7 linked regions of the Homo sapiens genome follow. The protein of the gene in region 6 interacts with the protein of the main gene of each other region in a biochemical or structural test. Each region holds a gene or a part of one and is shown on either strand. Other genes may lie near its edges. The genes, in order: MOB4, SMURF2, EIF4EBP1, PPM1F, DCAF1, LATS1 and MTF1.

Region 1 (3,500 bases), on a different chromosome or scaffold from region 6:
TTGTATTTTTAGTAGAGATGGGGTTTCAGCGTGTTAGCCAGGTTGGTCTCGAACTCCTGACCTCAAGTGATCTTCCCGCCTCAGCCTCCCAAAGTGCTGGGATTACAGGCGCAAGCCACCACGCTGGGCTTCATAGTTGGTTTTCAATAAATGTTTGTTGGTTGAATTAGATGAGAATCTTTATTAAGCTGAATTTTTGGTGTCTCTCATAGGCATCTAAAATATGTCACAGTTATGAGAAGGCGAAACATTTCATTCTCAACATCTTTTCTATATATAGTCATCATTGGTGTCCTCTGGGGATTGGCTCCAGGATAACTCCGTACCCCCACCCCATACCAAAATCTGAGGATGCTTAAGTTTCTTAAGTAAAATGGCATAGTGTTTGCATATAACCTATGCACATTCTGTTATATAGTTTAAATCAACTCTAGATTACTTAATAATACCTAATGCAATGCGTGTTCTGTAAATAGTTGTTATACTGTATTTAGGGAATAATGACCAAAAAGAAAGCCGGTACATGTTTAGTACATACGCAACTATCTTAGACCTAACTAGGTACATAGTACATGTCAGCAACAATATAACATTTTCTGTATTTTTTTTCTCCCCTGAAATGAATATTTTCAATTCCTGGTTGATTGAATCTGCAGATTAAACCTGCAGATATGGAGGGCCAACTGTACATGTGTTTTCTAATATTTTAAAAACAACATTCTGTAAACTTCCTTAGTTTTTTTAAAAAGGAAAGAATAGACAGAGTATTGGTAGAAACTTTAGATCATATAGGAAAAATTTTAGAATTGCTCTTTAATAGATAATGTCTAAGAAAAGGAATCCTGGAACCATTTCTAGAAGATTGTTTTATTTCTTGATATTTTCCTTTAATAAAATTAGTTCATTTTCATCCAGATAGGCCAGCTATTTCAAAAAAGATGAAATGTTTAAGACACTTAAAAAGGTGTACTCATTACCTACTGTCCAAACGGGGACATTGCTACTATAGTTGAATCCTTATGGAAGACATTCTCTGTCTTCTACCCTATCATTCCTTTTCTTTTCTGTATACTTTTACTATATATGCATTATATCCATAAGTATGCCTTGCACTTAAACTTTTTTTTTTTTTTTTGAGACAGAATCTCGCTCTGTCTCCCAGGCTGGAGTGCAGTGCTGCACTCTCGGCTCACTGCAAACTCCGCTTCCTGGGTTTGCGCCCACCACCACGCCTGGCTAATTTTTTGTATTTTTTCATAGAGATGGGGTTTCACCGTGTTAGCCAGGATGGTCTCGATCTGCTGACCTCATGATCCGCCTGCCTCGGCCTCCCAAAGTGCTGAGCGTGAGCCACCGCGCCCGGCCTAAACTTTATTCATTTTATATACACTGTGTTTACTTCTAATTTGCTTTTTTTGCTCAAGGTTTTGAAGACTTAATCTTTGTTGATTGTTTTTACAGGTTTATATACAGGTTTATAGATTATTGGTTTACTCTTACCTCCTCCCCACCAAGTTTTACCTCAGAGACATTTGAGCTTCAAAGATGTGTCAGGCATTGTGCTACCCACTGAGGTTACATAGGTAAACTTTTCTGAAAAATCAGTCAAATGGAAAGGTTCTTAATCACTTAGGGGAATATCTGTTAACTGTATTATCTACAGAGAATTCCAGAACCAGGGCAAGATGCTCTATAAAAATATCCCCCTTAAGCTGGGCATGGTGGCTCATGCTTGTAATGCCAGCACTTTGGGAGGCTGAGGCTGGAGGATTGTTTGTGACCAGGAGTTTGAGACCAACCTGGCCAACAAAGTGAGACCTCGTCTCTTAAAAAAAAAAAAAAAAAAAAAAAAGAAGAAGAAATAAAAATATTCCCTTTAACAGAAAGCTGGTTTATTTGATGTTTCCTTCTCTTTTTAAAATTTTTGTGGGTATATAGTAGGTGTATATATTTGTAGGTTACATGAGATATTTTGATACAAGCATGCAGTGTATAATAATCACATCAGGGGGGTAAATGGGGTATCCATCACCATAAACATTTGTATCGGGGAACCTGCCCCGATAGTCACGTAGGTTCTTTTCTATTTTCCCTAAGCATCAGCCAGTTTGAGAAATGAAGGGACAGAGTACAAAAGAGAGAAATTTTAAAGTTGGGCGTCCGGGGGAGACATCACATGTCGGTGGGTACCGTGATGCCCCACAAGCTGCAAAACCGGCAAGTTTTTATTAGGGACTTTCAAAAGGGGAGGGAGTGTACAAATAGGGTGTGGGTCACAAAGATCACGTACTTCACAAGGTAATAGAATATCACAAGGGAAATGGAGGCAGGGCGAGATCACAGGACCACAGGACCAGAGCAAAATTAAAATTGCTAATGAAGTTTCGGGCACCATTGTCATTGATAACATCTTATCAGGAGACAGGGTTTTGAGAGCAACCGGTCTGACCAAAATTTATTAGGTGGGAATTTCCTCTTCCTAATAAGCCTGGGAGCACTATGGGAGACTGGGGTTTATTTCACCCCTACAGTTTCGACCATAGAAGACGGCCATACCCAAGGGGGCCGTCTATAGACCCACCCCCAGGCGTGTATTCTCTTTCCCAGGGATGTTCCTTGCTGAGAAAAAGAATTCAGCGATATTTCTCCCATTTGCTTTTGAAAGAAGAGAAATATGGCTCTGTTCCGCCCGGCTCACCAGTGGTCAGAGTTTAAGGTTATCTCTCTTATTCCCTGAACAATTGCTGTTATCCTGTTCTTTTTCCAAGGTGCCCAGATTTCATATTGTTCAAACACACATGCTCTACAGTTTGTGCAGTTAACACAATTATCACAGGGTCCTGAGGTGACATACCTCCTCCTCAGCTGACAGGATTAAGAGATTAAAGACAGGCCTAGGAAATCACAAGGTATTGATTGGGGAAGTGATAAGTGTCCATGAAATCTTCACAATTTGTGTTTAGAGACTGCAGTAAAGACAGGCATAGGAAATTATAAAAGTATTAATTTGGAGAACTAATAAATGTCCATGAAATCTTCACAATCCACATTCTTCTGCCGTGGTTTCAGCCGGTCCCTCAGTTTGGGGTCCCTGACTTCCTGCAACACATTTGTCCTTTATGTTGCAAAAAATTAGATTCTTTTAGTTTTTTTTAAATGTACAATTAAATTGGTTTTTACTATAGTCACCCTATTGTGCTAGCAAATACTAGGTCTTATTCATTCTTTCTATTTTTTTTGTACCCATGGGTGATTACCTTTTTTTTTTTTTTTTTTTTTTTTTGAGATGGAGTCTTGCTCTGTCACCCAGGCTGGAGTGCAGTGGCGTGATCTTGAGTCACCACAGCTTCCGCCTCCTGGGTTCAAGCAATTCTCCTGCCTCAGCCTCCTGAGTAGCTGGGATTACAGGCGCACGCCACCATGCCCGGCTATTTTTTGTATTTTTAGTAGAGACGGGGTTTCATCATGTTGGCCAGGCTGGTCTCGAACTCCTGACCTCA
Region 2 (2,763 bases), on a different chromosome or scaffold from region 6:
GTAGGGAAGTCGTTCACTTCCATGTTCACATCTTGACCTGGTGAAACGTTTACCTGCCTGGGATGCCTCTCCCCTCTACTTTTCGTTCTTTCTCTTATTAGACAGAAGCAGCATGGGTCATGGAAACCATCTGTTCGGTCAGAGCATTTTAATTACTGCATGGCATCAGACCATTTGTTTACAACCATATTCCTTTTTTAAGAATGGTTTTCTGTGGAATAAGCTGGTTAATTTTGGGAGGAGCTGGTAATATTGCTAATGATTGTGGTGCTTCACTGGGTGGCAGTTGCTTCCTTTACCTCTTAAGCACTTCATTTTCAAAGCTGCTGGTGATGAATAAGGACACACAAAGCGACACTGGTACATAATTCGACAGTGCTGCCCACAGCGCATGCGCTGAAATCCCTGGGGGGAGAGCGTGCTTTCAGCTGTGCTGCCCTTCTCTGTAAGGAGAGCTCCTCATCCTCACACTTCCCAGATGCATAAAGTGAAGTTGTATTTCTGCTACATGTATTTATATGGGGTGCCTGTGCGAACTGAAATGGATTCTATAGACGGCTCTTTTGCTGTCAGCCCAGTTTGAGTCATGAAATCTAAATTTGCATCAGGTCGTCATCTTTTTGAATGTGTGCCTATGTATTTTACCTTGGATTTGCCTGATTACTTTTCTTCTCATGCTTTTGGGATATTGACTTTCTATAAAAGATAGAAATTGAGAAAGGGATTTCAATCTTGAGTTTTTTCTCAAATGGAAATGTGAACCTATTACGGAATCTAAGCCTTATCCAAGGTTAATTCTGGCTCTTAAAACCCAGATGCTTTTCCTGCTGCCCTTTGGTAGTATGTGTGGATTCATTAGCATTCCCCTATCCCCAGATCCTGTGGTTAACTTACCAGTTTTATTCTTAAGATTTTGGAGACTAATGCACGCACCTGCAGTGATTTCATCCACATTTCCTTCATTTGCAGGTGCTGCAGGCCCGAGACTCTTTACCATACACCAGATTGATGCCTGCACTAACAACCTGCCGAAAGCCCACACTTGGTAAGGTATTTTTGTAGCTGTATTCCCCATTCCATGTACATAAGTGTTAGTTCCAAACAGATTTGACTTTTTATTTATTGTACTTACTAGTGTTAAATGGGCCTTTAAAGGGAATGATAAGCAACTTAAGTGATTTAAAAGTTAAGATTATTCGGAAATTGGTAGGAAAACCCAAAAGTGGTCATCTCTGTTTTAGAGAAATACCTTTTAGTTTTCTGTGTGACACAGAGTGATGTGGCTATACTGGTATACACTTGCTAGGCCAGTTTACTTATTTTGAATGAACTGTATAAAATTTGATTTGCTTATTCACAGCTTCAATCGAATAGACATTCCACCCTATGAAAGCTATGAAAAGCTATATGAAAAGCTGCTAACAGCCATTGAAGAAACATGTGGATTTGCTGTGGAATGACAAGCTTCAAGGATTTACCCAGGACTCTATTTATACAACCCTGACTGACAGCCTCCTTTCAGCAGAGTTTCAAAGAATATGCTGAAATACAGGAAAACACTCCCCCCCCCCCCCTTTTTTTTTTTTTTTTTACATTTTAGGACACTGTGAGGGGAAAGGACAATTTTGAAATTCCTTTTCAAGGAAAAAAAAGGTCTTTATGCTTTGCCATGAGGCCACATTCAGCTGCTATTTAAACTTAATATCTTGAACCTAAAGAATGCTGACTTTTCCTACATTTCCAGAGTTAGGCAGTATTCTACACTTAAAGACTACTACTATTTTTATAAAAGGTAATCTATTCAAATTTCTTCACAGATTTCAAGTCTCTCAAACATCAAGACAACTTCAGCAGTCGGTACAAGTCACATTTCATTTTGATTGAATACATGATCTTGAACAGCTCCTGTACTTGCTCTTTGTAAAAAAAAATAAAATTATTTTGAATTATTCTACCTTTGTAAACAATTGGCTAAAAGAATCATCTTTAAGAAATTAAGCCATTTACATGTTTGTGTTTTTCTATAGCAGAGCATTATATTTTGCATTATATGTTTCAACCTAGTCTAAGTGGGTCTTTTTTACATTTTTCAAGAACGGATTTCCTGGAATACAGCGATATAATTTTGGTTGTCAAATTCCTAATGCAACCATTTAGTCTAAACTTAGTCATTTATTTGTGACAATAAGATGTGTTCAGGGGCTCCCTGTTTTTAAGAGACTCTTTTAAAAAAAAAAAAACCTAATGTTTTTATCTTGAGTCAATATGATTAGGTATTTTGGATTTACTTTTAATCTTAAAATACTGCATTTTTATAGCTTCTCAGAGCATGTGGATGGGATGGGATTTTCGTTATTTTGCTGGGTCAGCTTATCTTTAATATATGGACTATTCCTATAAACCAAAGTCTCTGACAAGTGCACCTAATTTATATTGTATTTTAACTACAGTGTAAGTTTCCATTAACAAAACCATCCTAAAGCGTTAACTGCTCATAATTTTAATCAGCTACAGTTATGAAAAAGGAAGAATTTTGCTCTAAAGATTATTAATAAGCTTAGAAAATCCTGCTTTTACCTAACAGAATGAAGTGGGGTTGAGGGGCGGTAGTATGAACAGTGATTCTAACTCTATGGCGTAAATTACTTTGAAGAGTTCATTTTGGAAGTAAGGGAATCCCGCTTCCCTTGGTGTTGAAGATCTGCATCTGATTTTGAAACGTCCAGATTTAGCTTTCAAGGTGCGTGCATGTTGAATGATCCA
Region 3 (3,166 bases), on a different chromosome or scaffold from region 6:
AAAAAAAGTGGTCCCATCTGGAGCCAGGATGTCCAGCCACTTGTCCACTGAGTCCCCACCCCGCTGCCTGGACCCTGGGGTCTCTGGGCTTCCCTCCCCTCTGGGGAGGAGAGATTGTACAACCCCAAGCCTTGCAGAGTGGAGCAGTGCCACATCTGGCCTCTAGAACCAAAACAAATCTGGGTCACTTTTTAAAAAAAAGAGTTAGAAATTGGTCTTCCCTTACCTCCCCTCACTGTCACCCCAGCCCTGCAAAGAGAGGGCACCACTGCTCTCCATTTGTAATCTGGGCTCATAGGCACTCAGACCTAGAAGGTGCATGGGTCTTTATTTTACAGATGAGGAGATGGAGGCCCAAAACAGGGGGTGCAAGGAGCAAGGTGCATAGGGTCACACAGCTGACTGGGAACGGAGCCCAAATGCACCCTGGTTCTTTACACCCCTCCTCCTAAGAAACAGCTGTGCGCTGGAGTCCCATAGGCAATGAGCAGGGCTGTCAGCTTCAGTATCACTGCCTCTCCTGCAAGGGGACAGGAGAGTAAGACCAGTGACTGCCTGGAGGGGCCACAGCCAGACTAGAGGAACACAGCCAGCAGGTGAAGTTTATCTTTAGGTATCTCTCTGCATTCCTCTGCCCTTCAGCATCTCACGTCATCCTCAGCACAGAGCCCCGTTTCAGGAACTCACACTCAGACTCCGAGATGGAAATTGGTTCCTTTCCAGGGGTTTACAGAGTCCAGTGCTGAGCATCAAGAAATGAATCTCAATATGTACAACTATTATGGATCCATAAAAATTAAAAATCAAAAAAGTAAAATAAAGTGTAAGAAATGAATCTCAGCTGTTGGAATGCTACTCATCATAGCCCCTAAGTGAAGGAGAGATTTCAAGGTTATTGCTAAGGAAGGGCATTCCTGAAGTCCTTAAATCATGATTCCCAAACTTGGGTTATTCATATTTTATCTGCACAATTATTACCATACCTTGCATTCCACTTGTACAGATATTTAATATTTCTTTATATCACCTTAGCTTTTGAATTTAATTTACATTATTTTATTATAGAATCTATAATATATTATTATATTATTGTATATTAAAAGGAATTGCTATCACTACTATATATGGAACACCGGATTCACTTGCCATAAATAGAAGGTAGCTATAAAAAGATACAAAGGGGCCGGGCACGGTGGCTCACACCTGTAATCCCAGCACTTTGGGAGGCCGAGGCAGGCAGATCACGAGGTCAAGAGTTTGAGACCAGCCTGGCCAACATGGTGAAATCCCGTCTCTACTAAAGATACAAAAAATTAGCTGGGCATGGTGGCACGCACCTATAATCCCAGCTACTTGGGATGGTGGGGTAGAATTCCAAGGTCAGTGACACACTGGCAGGACACACTGGGGGCCTCACAAAGGAGGGGCTCAGCAGGAGAGCCCACCCTTCACTCCTGCCTCTGGCTCTTCTCCGCAAAGCCCAGGCATTTCTCTCTTTTTTTTTTGGAACTGTCTTTTTGAGATAGGGTCTCACTGCAGCCTGGACCTCCTGGGCTCAAGCAATCCTCCCGTCTCAGCTTCCCGAGTAGCTGGGACTACAGGCACGTACCCATCATGCCCGACTCATTTTAACATTTTTGTAGAGATGAGGTCTCTCTAAGTTGTCCAGGCTAGTCTCAAGCTCCTGGGCTCAAGCAGTCCTCCCACGGTGGCCTCCCAAAGTGCTGAGATTACAGGTGTGAGCTACCACACCTGGCAAAAGTTCTTATTTTTACTACTCTGGTTGAATCACAAGTATTTTCTGTTTGGTCATTTGTAAAATGCAGCTATTCTGGGTATCCCACAGGAGTGCTGTAAGGACAGGACTGAATAATGACTAGAAATGCATTTTTTCCACCGTGGTATGTGATTGTCATGGGTAATTAACACTAAGCCCAGGTGGGTGAGTGAGCTGAGGGGCTATAGGGACAGAGCACAGTGTGCACAGAGCTCTGGGAAGACACAGGTGCAGTTGGTGGCCTGCAGACCCCTTCCATTGGATCATTCCATGTGAAGGGGAGTTGGGGCCGTTTGGAGGTAGCAGAGTTCTGGGTGGCAGCCAGGCCCCCAAATAAGCCTCACTACTCTGGCTTTTTTTTTTTTTTTTTTATGAAAAGGAGTCTCGCTCTGTTACCCAGGCTGGTGTACAGTGGTGCAATCGGCTCACTGCAACCTCTGCCTCCCAGGTTCAAGTGATTCTCCTGCCCCAGCCTCCTGAGTAGCTGGGATTACAGGCTACCACCACCACGCTGGCTAATTTTTGTATTTTTAGTAGAGACGGGGTTTCACCATGTTAGCCAGGCTGGTCTCGAACTCCTGACCTCAGGTGATCCACCCATGTTGGTCTCCCAAAGTGCTGGGATTATGGGCATGAGCCACCGCACCCAGCCTCCTCTGGGTTTTTCAGGAGAATCTGCTGCCTCTACTGCAGCCACGCCTTTAAAAAGTGGAAAAACCGGCAGGCAAGAGGCTGCAGATGGCTTGACCAACCTCCCTGTTCCCTTCTAGGTACCAGGATCATCTATGACCGGAAATTCCTGATGGAGTGTCGGAACTCACCTGTGACCAAAACACCCCCAAGGGATCTGCCCACCATTCCGGGGGTCACCAGCCCTTCCAGTGATGAGCCCCCCATGGAAGCCAGCCAGAGCCACCTGCGCAATAGCCCAGAAGATAAGCGGGCGGGCGGTGAGTGTCGGGGCTTGGCCAGGCTCTACCTTGGGAAAGGGAATGTATGAGGCTCCTGGAGTCCATCCACTGGGGGCAATTCCAGGGAGGAGGAACAACAGGGACTCTGCCCTACCCTCTAAGGAGCAGCTCAGAGCCCAGAGGGTGAGAGTAGGGGTGGGGAGGTTGAACTCTTCATTGGTAGCAACTTTCCCCCTGAAAGGGGCCCAGGCACCTCAGGAAAGGTGATCTGGCACCTTTGGGTCATGTAATTAGCGGGGAGTTTGTTTGAAATGGCAGCGGCTGCACACAGCAACTTTCGTAAGCATGTGCCTCTGTATAATTGTCTCTGAAGCATTTCCACTTGGAACACACCCATGATGTTTGTGGTGCAAGAGACAAGTTATCAAAGACACAGTGTACTTGTCCTTTGGGAAATTATATGTCTACAAGATAAGAA
Region 4 (3,500 bases), on a different chromosome or scaffold from region 6:
CACTTCTTGACAATGTCCACCCAGCTGCTGCTCCTGGCACCATCTCCTGAGACCGGATCTCTGGATGCCCACAAGTCCCCACCTGGACTCATGTCAAAACAGTGGCCAGGGTTGTCCCTCCACCCTCTAGTGGCCCTGAACCATGAGGCCATGCACCTGCCACATGGTGCTTGCAGGTGGGCACCTGCATTGCTGGTGCCATGGCCCCCTGATTCTGCTGACTCTGACATTTCTCCCCAGGGTGAAGCCTGGAGACCCTCTTGCCCTGGCCTAGCTGCAGGCCCCCGGGATGCTTTGGGCATGTCCTCTGGAGCCCCACAGAAGAGCAGCCCAATGGCCAGTGGAGCTGAGGAGACCCCAGGCTTCCTGGACACGCTCCTGCAAGACTTCCCAGCCCTGCTGAACCCAGAGGACCCTCTGCCATGGAAGGCCCCAGGGACGGTGCTCAGCCAGGAGGAGGTGGAGGGCGAGCTGGCTGAGCTGGCCATGGGCTTTCTGGGCAGCAGGTAGGCCTGTGCACCCCCAAAGGGGACGGGGAGTAAGGGCACGGCACCAGGGCCGACAAGGGATGTGGCTGCTGCTCCCCTACACGTCCAGCCCCACACGGGGATCTGCAGCCCCGGATCCCTATGCAGCACCATGTGGAACTCCCGTGGCTGCTATGGCAAAGCACCACACACTGGGCACTCAACACAGCCAAAGCTCATTCTTTCACAGGGCTGGAGGCCAGAGTCCAAGATCAAGGTGGCAGCTGCGCCATGCTCTCTCAAAGGCTGCAGGGAAGAGTCTGCCTTTCTGTTAGTGCCTGGCCTTGACTTCCTGGAGGTCCTTGGCTTGTAGACTCATTCCTCCTAGCTGGCCTTGTTGCACACGGCATCTCCCCATGTGTGTGTCTGTGCCTTCACACCTCCCCACCCTGCCTGCTGTGTGTCTGTGACTCCTCCTCTTGTAAGGACATGGGCATTTTGGACCAGGGGCTGCCCTCCTACAGTGTGATCTCATCTTTCTTTTTGTGGAGAATGGGGTCTCGCTATGCTGCCCAGGCTGGTCTCGAATTTCTGGGCTCCATGGATCCTCATGTTTTTGCCTCCCTAAATGCTGGGATTACAGGCATGAGCCACTCCAGCCAATGTGACCTCATGTGAACATAACTAATTACATTTGCAAAGACTTTAACTCCAAATAAGATCATATTCTGAGCCACAGGGGGCTGGGGCTTCAACATACCTTTTAGGGAACACAATTTATTGCATAGCAGCTGATAAGCAGTACGTCCTGTTTCCGATCCGTGTGATGGACGAGGAGGCAGAGGTGGGTAGATGAAGAGGCTGGCCTGAGGCCTTACAGTCAAGGAGTGGCAGAGCCACATGGCACCCCAGCCACCACGATCTGAGAGATAGCTGGCACTGTCCCCCTTCCACAGGTGAGGAAGCTGAGGCACAGAGAGGTAGCACAACTAGCCGAGCAGATTTCGGGGAAGATAGAGAGTTGGGTGTCCACCGGCAGACAGTGTGTAGCTGTCGCCTAGGCTGAACTCAGAGGTCCTTTCCTTGGAAGACCCTTGCCCTCCCCTTCATTTATTCATTCATTCTGGAAGCATTTGTCCCATGAAAGATGGTGAAGGACAAGGTCTTTTCTCGAACCCTCTCTGCTCAGACAGGGTCTTGGAGTTAGGCTGTCTGTCTGGCACAGGGGACAGCTCATGGAGGTGAGCAGGCTGGTGGGCCGCGTGCTGTTTCTGTGAACCTAGTCCCTTGCTGAGGGGATGTGCGCATGGTCCCCAGTCCCAGCATCACCCAAATCACCTGAAATATCACCTGAAGCCATGACAGGCCCTCAGCCATAGCTCCCTCTGACAGAGCCACCATCCTCGGTGGCTGCCTCAGTATCCCCCAAGTGTGCACTTCCTTTGCCCCTTGCAGCGAATCAACTCTGTTCCTGACACCCACCAAGGGCCTATTTTCCTTGACCCCAGGCCCTAGCAGAGTCAGTGACTTGTGCTCTCCCTGTGCAACATGGGCACAAACATTGCTAAGTGTCAGCCACATGCAAGGGCTATGCCACCCAGCATCCCCCACAGCTGCCTAGAGCTCAGGAGGAAATGTCCGGTGACCACGCTCCATGAGGTCATGGCATGCGCAAAGGGTGTTATTGGCTTGTTTTGAGGAAATATTTTAGATATGTGGCACAAAGTGAATCAGCCCCCAGTGGTGGAGCAGAGTGGGCCCAGCAGGGGTGCCAATGCACGGGAGGTGAGGAAAGGCCTCACGTTCTGCCTTCTTGAGAGGAGCAGGTGGCACTCTGCAGGGAGCAGGGGAGTCCAGACCAGGGAGTTCTGCAGCCACTGGGTCTTCGTGGAGGTGGCATGGGGCCATTGCTGCCTTGAGGCAAAAAGCCAGGCCCGGGACAGAAGGGTTGGTGCACTTTGGCCCAAGCATGAGGTGACCGGGCAAAGCCAAGCGGTGCCAGCCCCAAGCTGGGGATCAGATGGAAAAGCCATCCCGGGGAACAACAGAGCCCAGGGGTTTGCTGGGCCTGCGTGGGGCACAGGTGCTGAAGACGGACAGGCCGCAGCACCGGGGTGACAACATCAGCCTTCAGTTCCTGGGCAGGGGGAGAAGGGCGCAGAGCAGGGTCCCAGGGAAGGATCCAAGGTGGGAGGGCCTGGAGGGCTGAGGAGTGAGTAGGCAGTGCAGGTGACCTGCCCAGGAGGGCCCCGAACCAAAGTGTTGGGGTCAGTGCTGGGGGCGCAGGGGAGGGCAGTGGGTTTTGGTTTTGATGCGAGAGCAGCCAGACTTGTTGAGCGGCTGCTGTGTGAGCCACCTAGTGATGGGTGCGAGCAGGAGGGGTGCAGAGCTCCCGAGTCTCCTCAGCCCCCAGGAACCCACCTTACATGGTGAACTAAAATGGAGTATTTGAAGTTGTTATATGTTCCAGCCATCTTATTGGATTTATTTTTTAAGTTATTTTTGTTCTTTTCTAGCATCTTCTTTCACACGCAGGTGTGGATGTGCATAGGTGTAGTCAGCACTTGGGGTCTGAGCCTCACACGTTGTCTACACTAAGCCTGGCTGTCCACACACACGCACTCACATGTGCCCATACACAGTCACGAGTTCCACCTCCGAGCTCTGCTTCCCGTGTCCCAGCCTGAGGAGGGGCTCTTGGGCATGAAGGGCTTTGAGCATCTTGGTCCCTGAGCTCTTTCACAGACCGTAAAAGGCATCCTTCTGGAGGCCATCCAGGAGTCAGAACATCCAGTCCACAGGGGGCTATTTACGCCTTGTCTCCGCTCTTGTTTGGAGCCTCCTGTCACATATTTGAGTCCCTGAGCAGTGCATACCGTACACTAATGATTTGAGTGTGGTTTTTGTCTCTGCCACTAGACTATAAGCCTCTTGTAACAGCCCCTGCCCCAAGGTCGGTGAGACGTGTTTCTCAGGCACCTGGGCCTTGCATACACCTTGGCTTGTCCCTGGAGCATCTTCTTGCCTTGTGTA
Region 5 (3,500 bases), on a different chromosome or scaffold from region 6:
TTTTTTTTTTTGTGGAGACAGAGTCTCTCTCTGTGGCCCGAGCTGGAGTGCGGTGGCTCAATCTCAGCTCACTGCAACTTCCGCCTCCTGGGTTCAAGCAATTCTCCTGCCTCAACCTCCCGAGTAGCTGGGACTACAGGCGCCCGCCACTAAGCCTGGGTAATTTATTTTTTTAATTTTTATTTTAGTAGTGACAGGGTTTGGCCATGTTGCCCAGGCTAGTCTTGAACTCCTGAGCTCAGGCAATCTGCCCGCCTCAGCCTCCCAAAGCACTAGGATTACAGGCATGAGACCACGCCTGGCCCTGGCCTGATTATTTCTTTAGGACAGATTGTCAGAGGTGAAATTTCTAGGACAAGGTTTATGAACATTTTAAGAATCTTGTTTCATATTTCCAGATTACTTTCTTTTTCTTCTTTTTTTTCATTTTTCTTTTTTTTTGTTTTTCGAGACAGGCTCTCACTCTGTTGCCCAGACTGGAGTGCAGTGGTGTAATCACGGCTCACCACAGCCTCAACTTCCTGGGCATAGGTGATCCTCCCACCTCAGCCTCCTGAGAAGCTGGGACTACAGGCACGTGCTACCACACCCGGCTAATATCTTATATTTTTTTTTTATAGAAAAAGATAAAACCATGTTGCCCATTCTGGTCTCAAACTCCTGGGTTCAAGTGATCCTCCCACCTTGGCCTCCTAAAGTGTTGGGATTATAGGCTTGAGCCACCGTGCCTGGCCTCCAGATTACTTTCTGGAAAGAGTGTACTAATTTCTACTCTCACCAAAACTTTGAGAGTACGTGTCTCTATATGTTTTCACTAGGATGAAAGGATTCAGGATTATTCTATGTTTTTTATCATAGAAGTTTAATAGGTAAAAATTCCATTGCTATATTTTTTGGAAGTAATGTCATGGTGACTATAAAATCCTCTCTTGATGCGACAGCTTGAGATAGAGCCACACTGGTAGTGCTTCTGATTTATTGTCTCTGTGTGTATGTGTCTATCTGTCTGTGTGTCTCTCTCTCTGTCTCTCTTGATTCTTGTGGCTATACTCTAATTTCCCTTTGACTAATTCTTCCTGTCCAGGAATGACACTGTGCGCTTTGCTTTGGATGTCCTGGCTATTCTTACTGTGGTGCCAAAAATCCAGCTCCAGTTGGCAGAATCAGTGGACGTGTTGGATGAGGCTGGATCTACAGTCTCTACTGTAGGTAGGTTGTACTTTGCCATTTTTGTTGTTTCTTGGTCTGGATTTGTTTTTTCTTTGCCACTCTGGTCTTGGTTACTTACCTGACCTAATTTTGGATTTTAGAACAGAAGTAGTAGAGGGGGGCTCCTTGTCTGTCCTTTATAAGGAGTACCATTCAGCAGATCAGGAACTAATTTAAAAAAAAAAACCAAAAAACAAAAATACAAATGTAGGACCAGATAGTTTGATGTAAGGGAGTCATGCTAGTAAACTCAGGTTTTCTGAGTGGTACTGGCATTTCTGCTATAATGGTATATTATAGCTTTCCTGAAAAGCTCACACTCTGAAGAGTCTTGCACTAAAAATAAAGTTCATGGGAAAAATGGGTTGAGGCAGATAGTAAAAAACTTAAGCATCACAGCTTTCCAGGAGTTAAAGGGAAAAAAAAACAACAAAGTAAGCAGTTTTGTAACCTGAGTCAGTAATTGGCAGGTAGCTCAAAATGGGTAGAAACCGTCATACATATATAAAAAAAGGAAAATATACTTTGATAATATACTTTATTAAGAGCAAGGCTGATCAGGGCACTGCTGGGGTGAGCATGGGAAGTCGTGTGATGGGACAAGATGCAGGATAGGACTAAGACACAGGCACTTGGTTTTTAATTTTCTTAAAATAGAGTGGAAAGGGTTCTGCTTCCACAGTAGCAGCCCAACCGAGGGCTTTCTCCGTTCCTAAGGTTTTAGTGTATTAAAATTAATAAACCAGAAAAGGTCGAGCACAGTGGCTCACACCTGTAATCCCAAAACTTTGGGAGGCCGAGGCGGGTGGATCACCTGAGGTCAGGAGTTCCAGACCAGACTGGCCAACATGGTGAAACCCCACCTCTACTAAAAATACAAAAATTAGCTGGGCGTGGTGACAGGCGCCTGTAATCCCAGCTCTTTGCAGGGATGAGGCAGGAGAATCACTTGAACTCGGGAGGCGGAGGTTGCAGTGAGCCAAGATCACGCCACTGCACTCCAGCTTGGGCGACAGAGCGAGACTCTGCCTCAAAAAAATAATAAAACCAGAAAAAATTGCACATGAACCTTGATTACTTTTCCATAATTATGACATGATTTCCCTATTTAATAACTGCATATGAGATACCATAAAAATACATTGTAGTAGAACTGTCTGCACTTTATACAAACCCTTGCAGTTTTTACAAAAGTAATATAGTTTTTTAAAGTAAAAGTGAGTAGAACACCAAATTTTGACTCTGGAACAACTATTGAAGTTGGCCATTAGTTTTATGGTGAATAATACATAATTTTTTTTCCCATTAGGTATCAGCATTATTTTGGGAGTGGCTGAGGGTGAGTTCTTCATCCATGATGCTGAAATTCAGAAGTCAGCACTTCAGATTATCATCAATTGTGTGTGTGGCCCAGATAACCGAATATCCAGTATTGGTAAATTTATCTCTGGTACTCCTCGGAGAAAGCTGCCTCAGAACCCTAAAAGCAGTGAGCACACCCTGGCCAAGATGTGGAATGTGGTTCAGTCCAACAACGGCATCAAGGTGCTCCTGTCCTTACTGTCCATTAAGATGCCCATCACAGATGCAGACCAAATCCGGGCCCTGGCCTGCAAAGCCCTAGTGGGCCTGTCTCGCAGTAGCACTGTCCGGCAGATCATCAGTAAACTGCCCCTTTTCAGCAGCTGCCAGATCCAGCAGCTGATGAAGGAGCCTGTGCTGCAGGACAAGCGCAGTGACCATGTCAAGTTCTGCAAGTATGCTGCTGAACTCATTGAACGGGTGTCAGGAAAACCACTTCTCATTGGCACTGATGTTTCCCTAGCACGACTGCAGAAAGCAGATGTTGTTGCCCAGTCAAGGATCTCCTTCCCTGAGAAAGAGCTGCTTTTGTTGATACGAAACCATCTTATTTCTAAAGGGCTTGGAGAAACAGCAACCGTGCTGACAAAAGAGGCTGACCTGCCCATGACTGCTGCCTCCCATTCTTCTGCCTTTACCCCAGTCACTGCTGCTGCTTCTCCTGTCTCTCTACCCCGAACCCCTCGTATCGCTAATGGCATTGCAACTCGTCTGGGCAGCCATGCTGCTGTGGGTGCCTCTGCGCCTTCTGCCCCTACTGCTCATCCTCAGCCACGGCCCCCCCAGGGTCCGCTAGCTCTGCCCGGCCCATCTTATGCAGGCAACTCCCCTTTGATTGGTAGAATCAGTTTTATCAGAGAGAGGCCATCACCCTGCAATGGCAGGAAAATCAGAGTGTTGCGGCAGAAGTCGGACCATGGTGCCTACAG
Region 6 (3,500 bases):
TATGATGAGCCTATTAATTAGAATGGGCATCTTTCCAGAAAGTCTGGCACGATTCTACATAGCAGAACTTACCTGTGCAGTTGAAAGTGTTCATAAAATGGGTTTTATTCATAGAGATATTAAACCTGATAATATTTTGATTGATCGTGATGGTCATATTAAATTGACTGACTTTGGCCTCTGCACTGGCTTCAGATGGACACACGATTCTAAGTACTATCAGAGTGGTAAGTAAACTCATAAAATTTATTTTAGTTTGTTCATAATAATGTAATTTATTGATGTAGTAAAATATAAGATGGTATCATCACTGGATGAGAGCCAGAAGATGTGGGTCAGGTCTTGATTCTGTTGGATAAACTTGGGTGACTCCATTAGGCACTTAGACTTATGAAATGAAAGAATGTGCTAGACTTGATTGTTTAGACTTATGAAATGAAAGAATGTGCTAGACTTGATTGTTTCTAAATATTATTAACATTTTTGAGTCACACCTTTTACATTTTATTTGAAAATATGCCAGACAAACAATTTTTTTTTTTTTTTTTTTTTGATGGAGTCTCGCTCTGTCGCCCAGGCTGGAGTGCAGTGGCACCATCTTGGCTCACTGCAATATCCCCCTCCTGGGTTCAAGTGATTCTCCTGCCTCAGCCTCCCGAGTAGCTGGGATTATAAGCACCTGCCAGTACGCCCGGCTAATTTTTGTATTTTTAATAGAGATGGGGTTTCACCATGTTGGCCAGGCTGATCTCGAACTCCTGACCTCAGGTGATCCACCTGTCTCAGCCACCCAAAGTGCTGAGATTATAGGTGTGAGCCCCCTGCGCCTGGCCAAAAACATTTTTAAAATAATTTTTTAATGAATCCTCATATCCAACATTCAGTTAAAGAACTAGATTATCAGTACTTTAGAAGCCCTTAAACAATCACTTCCCCTTTTCTCCTCCACAAAGATAATTATTATTTCAGAACTTTATAATCGGTTCTTTACTTTTATCGATCCTTTTATCACAAATGTGTATATCTTTAAATAATATATTATTTCATTTTGCCTACTCTTTAACCTTTATTTAAATATAATCTATATATATTCTTTGTGTTGACTTGTTTGAGGTTCCTCCATGTTATTGCTTGTAACATTTATTTTCACTACTATTTAGGATTTCATTACATGACTGTTACACAACTTATATAACCCTAAACACTTTATGATCCTTGATCCTATTTTATCCTCACAATGTCACTGTGAGGCAGGATGAAGAAACTGAGACCTAGTTAGATGAAGTAACTTGCCCAAGGTCAGACAGAAATCAAGTGTAAGGGCTAGGCTTTGAACCCAGGTTTGTCTGATTTCAGGGCCCATGTTATTTCTACTACACCACACTGCCTCACCAAGATCCCTCCAAGCGCTAATGGAAGTGTAAGTCAATCTAACATTTGTTAAATACTATGTACTAGGTGCTTAACCATATATTCTAATATGCTCGCAACAATTCTCTGAGGTAAGTATTATTAGCCTCCTGTGCTTCTGTGAACACAAGTAGATTGACATTAAAATGGGTAGAACTGAGACAATTGAACCTACTTTAATGTTCGACATAGTGGAATTTAGTGTCTTCCCAGATTCGACTGAATTATTACCTGGAAAGCTTCTTAAAAATATGATTCCTAGGCTCTATTCCCATCTTTTGATCAAAAATCTTCACTGGGGCATAGAAATCTTTTTGTTGTTTTTTGTTTGTTTGTTTGTTTGTTTTTGAGACGGAGTCTCGCTCTGTTGCCCAGGCTGGAGTGCAGTGGCGCAATCTCGGCTCACTGCTAGCTCTGCCTCCCAGGTTCACGCCATTCTCTTGCCTCAGCTTCCCGAGTAGTTGGGACTACAGCCGCCGGCAACCACGCCCGGCTATTTTTTTTTTTTTTTTTTTTTTTTTTTTTTTGGATTTTTAGTAGAGACCAGGTTTCACCGTGTTAGCCAGGACGGTCTCAATCTTCTGACCTCATGATTTGCCTGCCTCTGCCTCCCAAAGTGGCTGGGATTACAGGCGTGAGCGACCACGCCCAGCCTGTTTGTTTTTTTTTTTTTGAGACGGAGTTTTGGTCTGTTGCCAGGCTGGAGTGCAGTGGCGCGATCTCGGCCCACTGCAACCTCCATCTCCTGGGCTCAAGCGATTCTCCTGCTTCAGCCTCCCAAGTAGCTGGAATTACAAGTGTGCTCCACCACACCCAGCTAATTTTTGTATTTTTAGTAGAGATGGGGTTTCACCATGTTGGCCAGGATGGTCTCAATCTCTTGACCTCATGATCCACCCTCCCTGGCCTCCCAAAGGGAAATCATATTTTAATCAAACATCCCAGATAAATATTACAGTTAGGTTAATTTCTTATATTCTAGGTGACTTCATGCCATCTATATGTCAATGAATTCCAAATCTCTCTCTCCAGAAATGGCCTTTCTCTGAAATTCGTAATTTCTCTATCCAGCTGCTTCCTGGCTATCTTCACATGGATTTCAAATAGGCCTTTCAAACTTCACATGACCCATAAAGAACTTTTTTTTTTAAGCATAAATCAGATACTGTTATCTTCTTGCTTCGAACTCTGCAATATCTTCTCACTTTACTTGAGGTAAAAGGCAGACCATTTCTATTGCTTGCAAAACCCACATGTATTCCTGCCGCATTTCTTACAGTTCTTGCCCCATTTCCTACAGTTCTCCCCTTTATCAGCTGTGCTGGTCTTCTCTCTGTTGCTGTTATTTCTGTGTGGAATACCTAATCCTGATTTATAAATGGTTGAGTCCTTCTTGTTTTTTTACGGTTTAGCTGAAGTCACCTTCTTAACTGGTCTTCCCTAGCCATTCAGTCTTATGTAGCTATCCAGTCACATTTGTTACATCACCCTGTGTTGATTCTCTGTGTAGGGTATGTCACTGTTCCTTATATGTGTAATTGTTTTGTTTCTTTTCCTACTAGAATGTAACCAGAGCTTTGTCTTATTATCACTGTCATTTATTGAATGAAAGATGGATCTAATTTGTTTGAAAGTTTGTCCAGAGTAGTAACAGGGAGTGGGCTAAATAACAAACTCTTAATCTCCCCATGACTCATATTGTTGTTATTTAACATTGCATAAATTACTAAATCTTAGGCTAATTTTTTTTAAGTGTAAAATCCTTCCTATTGACATCTCAGAAAATAGGCTCTAATTGGTAATAAACACCATCAGTGATTTGGCATACATTGTGTCTTAGTTTGTCACAAGGGAGAATGTTGTTAACCCTAAACCACGATGTCAGAAGATTAAATAGACTTCAGGTTTACTGTTGTCATTGTTGACTTTATTTACTTATTCTTTTGTTGTGCAGGTGACCATCCACGGCAAGATAGCATGGATTTCAGTAATGAATGGGGGGATCCCTCAAGCTGTCGATGTGGAGACAGACTGAAGCCATTAGAGCGGAGAGCTGCACGCCAGCACCAGCGATGTCTAGCACATTCTTT
Region 7 (3,500 bases), on a different chromosome or scaffold from region 6:
TGTAGTTTATGTTTGGGGTTTCATTTAAATCTGAAGAAAGGATAGTGGCCTTGTTCATGGGAAGAATCAAGGACTTTTGTAGAAGTACGAGAGAACTTCGTACGTGTTATTGGAGTTTGATGAATGAGCCATGAGTTGGGCATGATTCAAAGGTTTTGAATAGGCCAGGCACAGTGGCTCATGCCTGTAATCCCAGCACTTTCGGAGGCAGAGGCAGGTGGATCAGTTGAGGTCTGGAGCTCTAGACCAGCCTGGCCAACATGGTGAAACCCTGTCTCTACTAAAAATACAAAAATTAGCCGGTTGTGGTGGTGCATGCCTGTAGTCCCAGCCACTTGGGAGGCTGAGGCAGGAGAATCACTTGAACCCAGAGGGCGGAGGGTGCAGTGAGCCATGATTGTGCCACTGCATTCCAGCCTGGGCAACAAAATGAGAATCTGGTTGGAAAAAAAAAAAAGGTTTTGAATCATGTTGATTGAAAGGATTCATCCATTTTCCCAAATTTGTTGAGTTTCTGCTGTGTCTTAGCACAGCTTTTTGATGGAGCTCAAATCTAGGTGAAGAGTTAAGCAGTTAAGAGTCCGTTGTGGTAGATATTTTAACAGAGGTGTATTCGAAGTGCTGTGTGCATGCTGAGGAGAAAGTGGCTAACTCTGCTCTCCGCACCCTCCAAATGGTGATCCCATTCATAGGAATCAAGAAAGATGGGAAAAGGAAAAAGTTTTGATGGGGTAATTAAAGAGTTTGGTAGGAGTGTATTGAATGTATAGTCCTTGGAGAAAAGTAACATGAACAAATGGAAAGCTCATTGGAAACGTGTATCTGAGGTCAAAGAAATGGTTTGGAGTTAGAATAGTAGTAGAAAGGGGCCTTCAAACTGTGGGTAGTTTACTTAAGGGAGAAGTAAGAGTTGGCCTGAGAATTTAAGGGTTGGAAAGAGAAAGAGGAACCCAAGAAGATCACAGTAGTCAAAGAGATGGGTCGACTGCAGTGTTGTGGAAGCTGAAGGAAGAGAGTGTCAACAAATGAGAATATTCCTGTGTGACCCTGCAGAGGGATTGAGGAGCCCCGAAGAAGCCTTTAGTTGTGCTGGTTGTGCAGTTGTTCACATATCATGAGAAGACTTGCAGCAGAGCACTGGGGCTGAAGCCAGGTTTTGAGTGATGAAGAAGTGAGTGAGTGATGAGGAAACAGGAGGCAGGAAATGTCAAGTTGGCTTTTTTTTTTTTTTTTAAATAAGTTTGGTAGTTAGAGGAAGAAGAGTGATGAGGCAGTAGTAGCTAGCTCAAGGAGATTGAATCATTTTTGTTTAGCATAGGTAATTTGGACATAGTTTAGGACCTAAACTTTAGGCCATCCTCCATCAGTGATTACTGTGTGAAAGTGTTTCATGAGCGAATGTTCGGGAAACATTAAGTTAAACCAAGACAGAAATTTGTTGATTAGGACTTCTCAGAGCCTTTGATGTGCCAACAGCTAAGAAGGAAGAAAACACAGAATTTTTCAAATGCTTTAAACTTGAGAAACCATTTTTCAGATCTAATTTCCAGGGATCAGTGTTTTGTGGAACACATTTTGGGAAATGCTGATCTAGGCAGAAGAGGAGGAGATGGTACAGAGGGAATGATTATGCAATCAGTGAAAAGCTGTCACTTTTCCACTTTGTACTATTCAAATTGGTTTATTCTATTTGCAAGTCTGGTTTGCCATTCTTGTCTTCAGATCATTGATAATCATATTGAATAGCACAGGGTCAAGGATATTATGAGCACTTTGTTCAGTTTGCTGGGGATTTAGCTCACTCCACTTTCCTCTCACCCACATTTTTCCATGCTATCCATGAGACCTTTGTGGAAGATGCTATATTCTTGAAATCAGTAGGTTTGGGGTTGGGTGGAGATTGAAGGAGAAGTAGCAGTAGCTTTAGTCTTCGAAAATCTTGCTTAATGACCAGACATTCAGGAGGCTTGCCTTCCTGAAGCACTGTCTTAGCTTAGCTTTTGTTTTGGCAGTGATTTTATTTTGGCATTAAAATCCACTTATTTGGCCTGAAGAGGCTGATGTTTATGACTACTCGATAACAGACTTCATGATCCTTTAGCTCTTCCTTACTCCTTTTCCTTTCGTTTTTTTTCAGCTTGGTTTTTGGTTTTTTCTTTTCCCTCCATGCACAGGTGTTACTCTTGAGAAATCAAATCATTTGATAACTAGTTGGTCTTCTTGGCTTCCCAAGCAGCTTATTTTCTGAGTCACATTTTAGCCTGAATTTCCTGTTTACTCCTGGTTTTTTCATTGTTTCATATAGTGTGGAGTTGGCTTACCTATTACTTCATTTTCTTTTCTTCATGCTTGTCTTGCGCAAAAAATAAACCAACCAGAACCTTGCCACAGATAGTCTTTTCCTACCACAAGGCCGCTGGTCATTCTGACTCGAATTTCACGTATCTTATTCTCATACTTGTTATTTCATTACTGTCTCCCTACTGATTTGGTAGCTTTGAGATCTCTCTCTCTCTCTCTCTCTCTTTCTCTCTCCCTTTTTTTTCTCTTTCTCTCTCTCATTCCCTTCCTCCCTCCCTTCCTTCCTTCTTTTCCCTTTCTGTCTTTCTTCTTTCCTTTCTCTCTTGAAACAGGGTCTCACTGTGTCACACAGGTTGGAGTGATTACAGTGGTGGGATCGTAGCTCACTGTAACCTCAAACTCCTGGGCTCAAGCAATCCTCCTGCCTCGACCTCCCAAAGTGCTGGGATTATAGGCATGAGCCATGGCACTTGGCCAGCTTGCAAAATTTCTAATCAAAATATTTTCATTCTGCCTAAAAACAAAAGCTTTTTTTTTTTTTTTTTTTTTTTGGTTGAGACAGGGTTCCATTCTGTAGCCAGGCTGGAGTACAGTGGCACGATCATGGCTCACTGCAGCCTTAACCTCCCAGGCTCAAGCCGTCCTGCCACCTCAGCCTCCACAGTAGCTGGGACCACAGGCATGTGCTACTGTGCCGGCTACTTTTTGGTGGTTGTTTTGGTAGAGAGGGGTCTCACTATGGGCTGGTTCCAAAATCCTGGGCTCACGCAATCCTTCCACCTTGGCCTCCCAAAGTATTGTGATTACCGGCATGAGCCACCATGTCTGGCCCTTTAAGGCCTTTCTACTCCAAGTCTCGAAGCAGCTGCGTCTTGTTGTTTGTTTGTTTGTTTACGTATTTTATTTTATTTTTTTAAGACACTGGGTCTTGCTATGTTTGCCCAGGCCATCATCATAGCTCACTGTAACCTGGAACTTCTGGCCTCAACCAATTCTCCCTCCTTAGCCTCCTGAGCTGCTGGGATTAAAGGCATGAGCTACCACACCTGGCAACTGTGTTTTCTTTAGTTGGTTTGTGCAGTCCATTCTTGAATCTGTGCCCTTCCATAGAACCTGCCAGGACGGTCTAGTTACCTGTTCATCTACCTCTGTCTGCACTACATTGGTGACGTGATGTATCCTCCATGGCTAACTGACCT

Evidence for each region.
Region 1: the proteins of LATS1 (region 6) and MOB4 form a complex in vitro, tested with the Homo sapiens proteins (one study listed by BioGRID).
Region 2: the proteins of LATS1 (region 6) and SMURF2 interact in a test that uses a peptide from one of them, tested with the Homo sapiens proteins (one study listed by BioGRID).
Region 3: of the proteins of LATS1 (region 6) and EIF4EBP1, one has a biochemical effect on the other in vitro, tested with the Homo sapiens proteins (one study listed by BioGRID).
Region 4: of the proteins of LATS1 (region 6) and PPM1F, one has a biochemical effect on the other in vitro, tested with the Homo sapiens proteins (one study listed by BioGRID).
Region 5: the proteins of LATS1 (region 6) and DCAF1 form a complex in vitro, tested with the Homo sapiens proteins (one study listed by BioGRID).
Region 7: of the proteins of LATS1 (region 6) and MTF1, one has a biochemical effect on the other in vitro, tested with the Homo sapiens proteins (one study listed by BioGRID).

What each region holds. Positions count from the first base shown.
Region 1 is NC_000002.12:197,519,066-197,522,565, forward strand, and holds part of MOB4 (MOB-like protein phocein), read left to right. Parts: intron 1-3,500.
Region 2 is NC_000017.11:64,544,545-64,547,307, reverse strand, and holds part of SMURF2 (E3 ubiquitin-protein ligase SMURF2), read left to right. Parts: intron 1-969; coding exon 970-1,045; intron 1,046-1,360; coding exon 1,361-1,460; 3' UTR 1,461-2,763. UniProt on the Homo sapiens protein: E3 ubiquitin-protein ligase which accepts ubiquitin from an E2 ubiquitin-conjugating enzyme in the form of a thioester and then directly transfers the ubiquitin to targeted substrates.
Region 3 is NC_000008.11:38,054,534-38,057,699, forward strand, and holds part of EIF4EBP1 (eukaryotic translation initiation factor 4E-binding protein 1), read left to right. Parts: intron 1-2,547; coding exon 2,548-2,727; intron 2,728-3,166. UniProt on the Homo sapiens protein: Repressor of translation initiation that regulates EIF4E activity by preventing its assembly into the eIF4F complex: hypophosphorylated form competes with EIF4G1/EIF4G3 and strongly binds to EIF4E, leading to repress translation.
Region 4 is NC_000022.11:21,942,849-21,946,348, reverse strand, and holds part of PPM1F (protein phosphatase 1F), read left to right. Parts: intron 1-240; 5' UTR 241-300; coding exon 301-506; intron 507-2,914; exon of another isoform or gene 2,915-3,500. UniProt on the Homo sapiens protein: Dephosphorylates and concomitantly deactivates CaM-kinase II activated upon autophosphorylation, and CaM-kinases IV and I activated upon phosphorylation by CaM-kinase kinase. Promotes apoptosis.
Region 5 is NC_000003.12:51,420,016-51,423,515, reverse strand, and holds part of DCAF1 (DDB1- and CUL4-associated factor 1), read left to right. Parts: intron 1-1,084; coding exon 1,085-1,209; intron 1,210-2,518; coding exon 2,519-3,500. UniProt on the Homo sapiens protein: Acts both as a substrate recognition component of E3 ubiquitin-protein ligase complexes and as an atypical serine/threonine-protein kinase, playing key roles in various processes such as cell cycle, telomerase regulation and histone modification.
Region 6 is NC_000006.12:149,676,602-149,680,101, reverse strand, and holds part of LATS1 (serine/threonine-protein kinase LATS1), read left to right. Parts: coding exon 1-227; coding exon of another isoform or gene 228-235; intron 236-1,356; coding exon of another isoform or gene 1,357-1,420; intron 1,421-3,364; coding exon 3,365-3,500. UniProt on the Homo sapiens protein: Negative regulator of YAP1 in the Hippo signaling pathway that plays a pivotal role in organ size control and tumor suppression by restricting proliferation and promoting apoptosis.
Region 7 is NC_000001.11:37,849,593-37,853,092, reverse strand, and holds part of MTF1 (metal regulatory transcription factor 1), read left to right. Parts: intron 1-3,500. UniProt on the Homo sapiens protein: Zinc-dependent transcriptional regulator of cellular adaption to conditions of exposure to heavy metals. Binds to metal responsive elements (MRE) in promoters and activates the transcription of metallothionein genes like metallothionein-2/MT2A.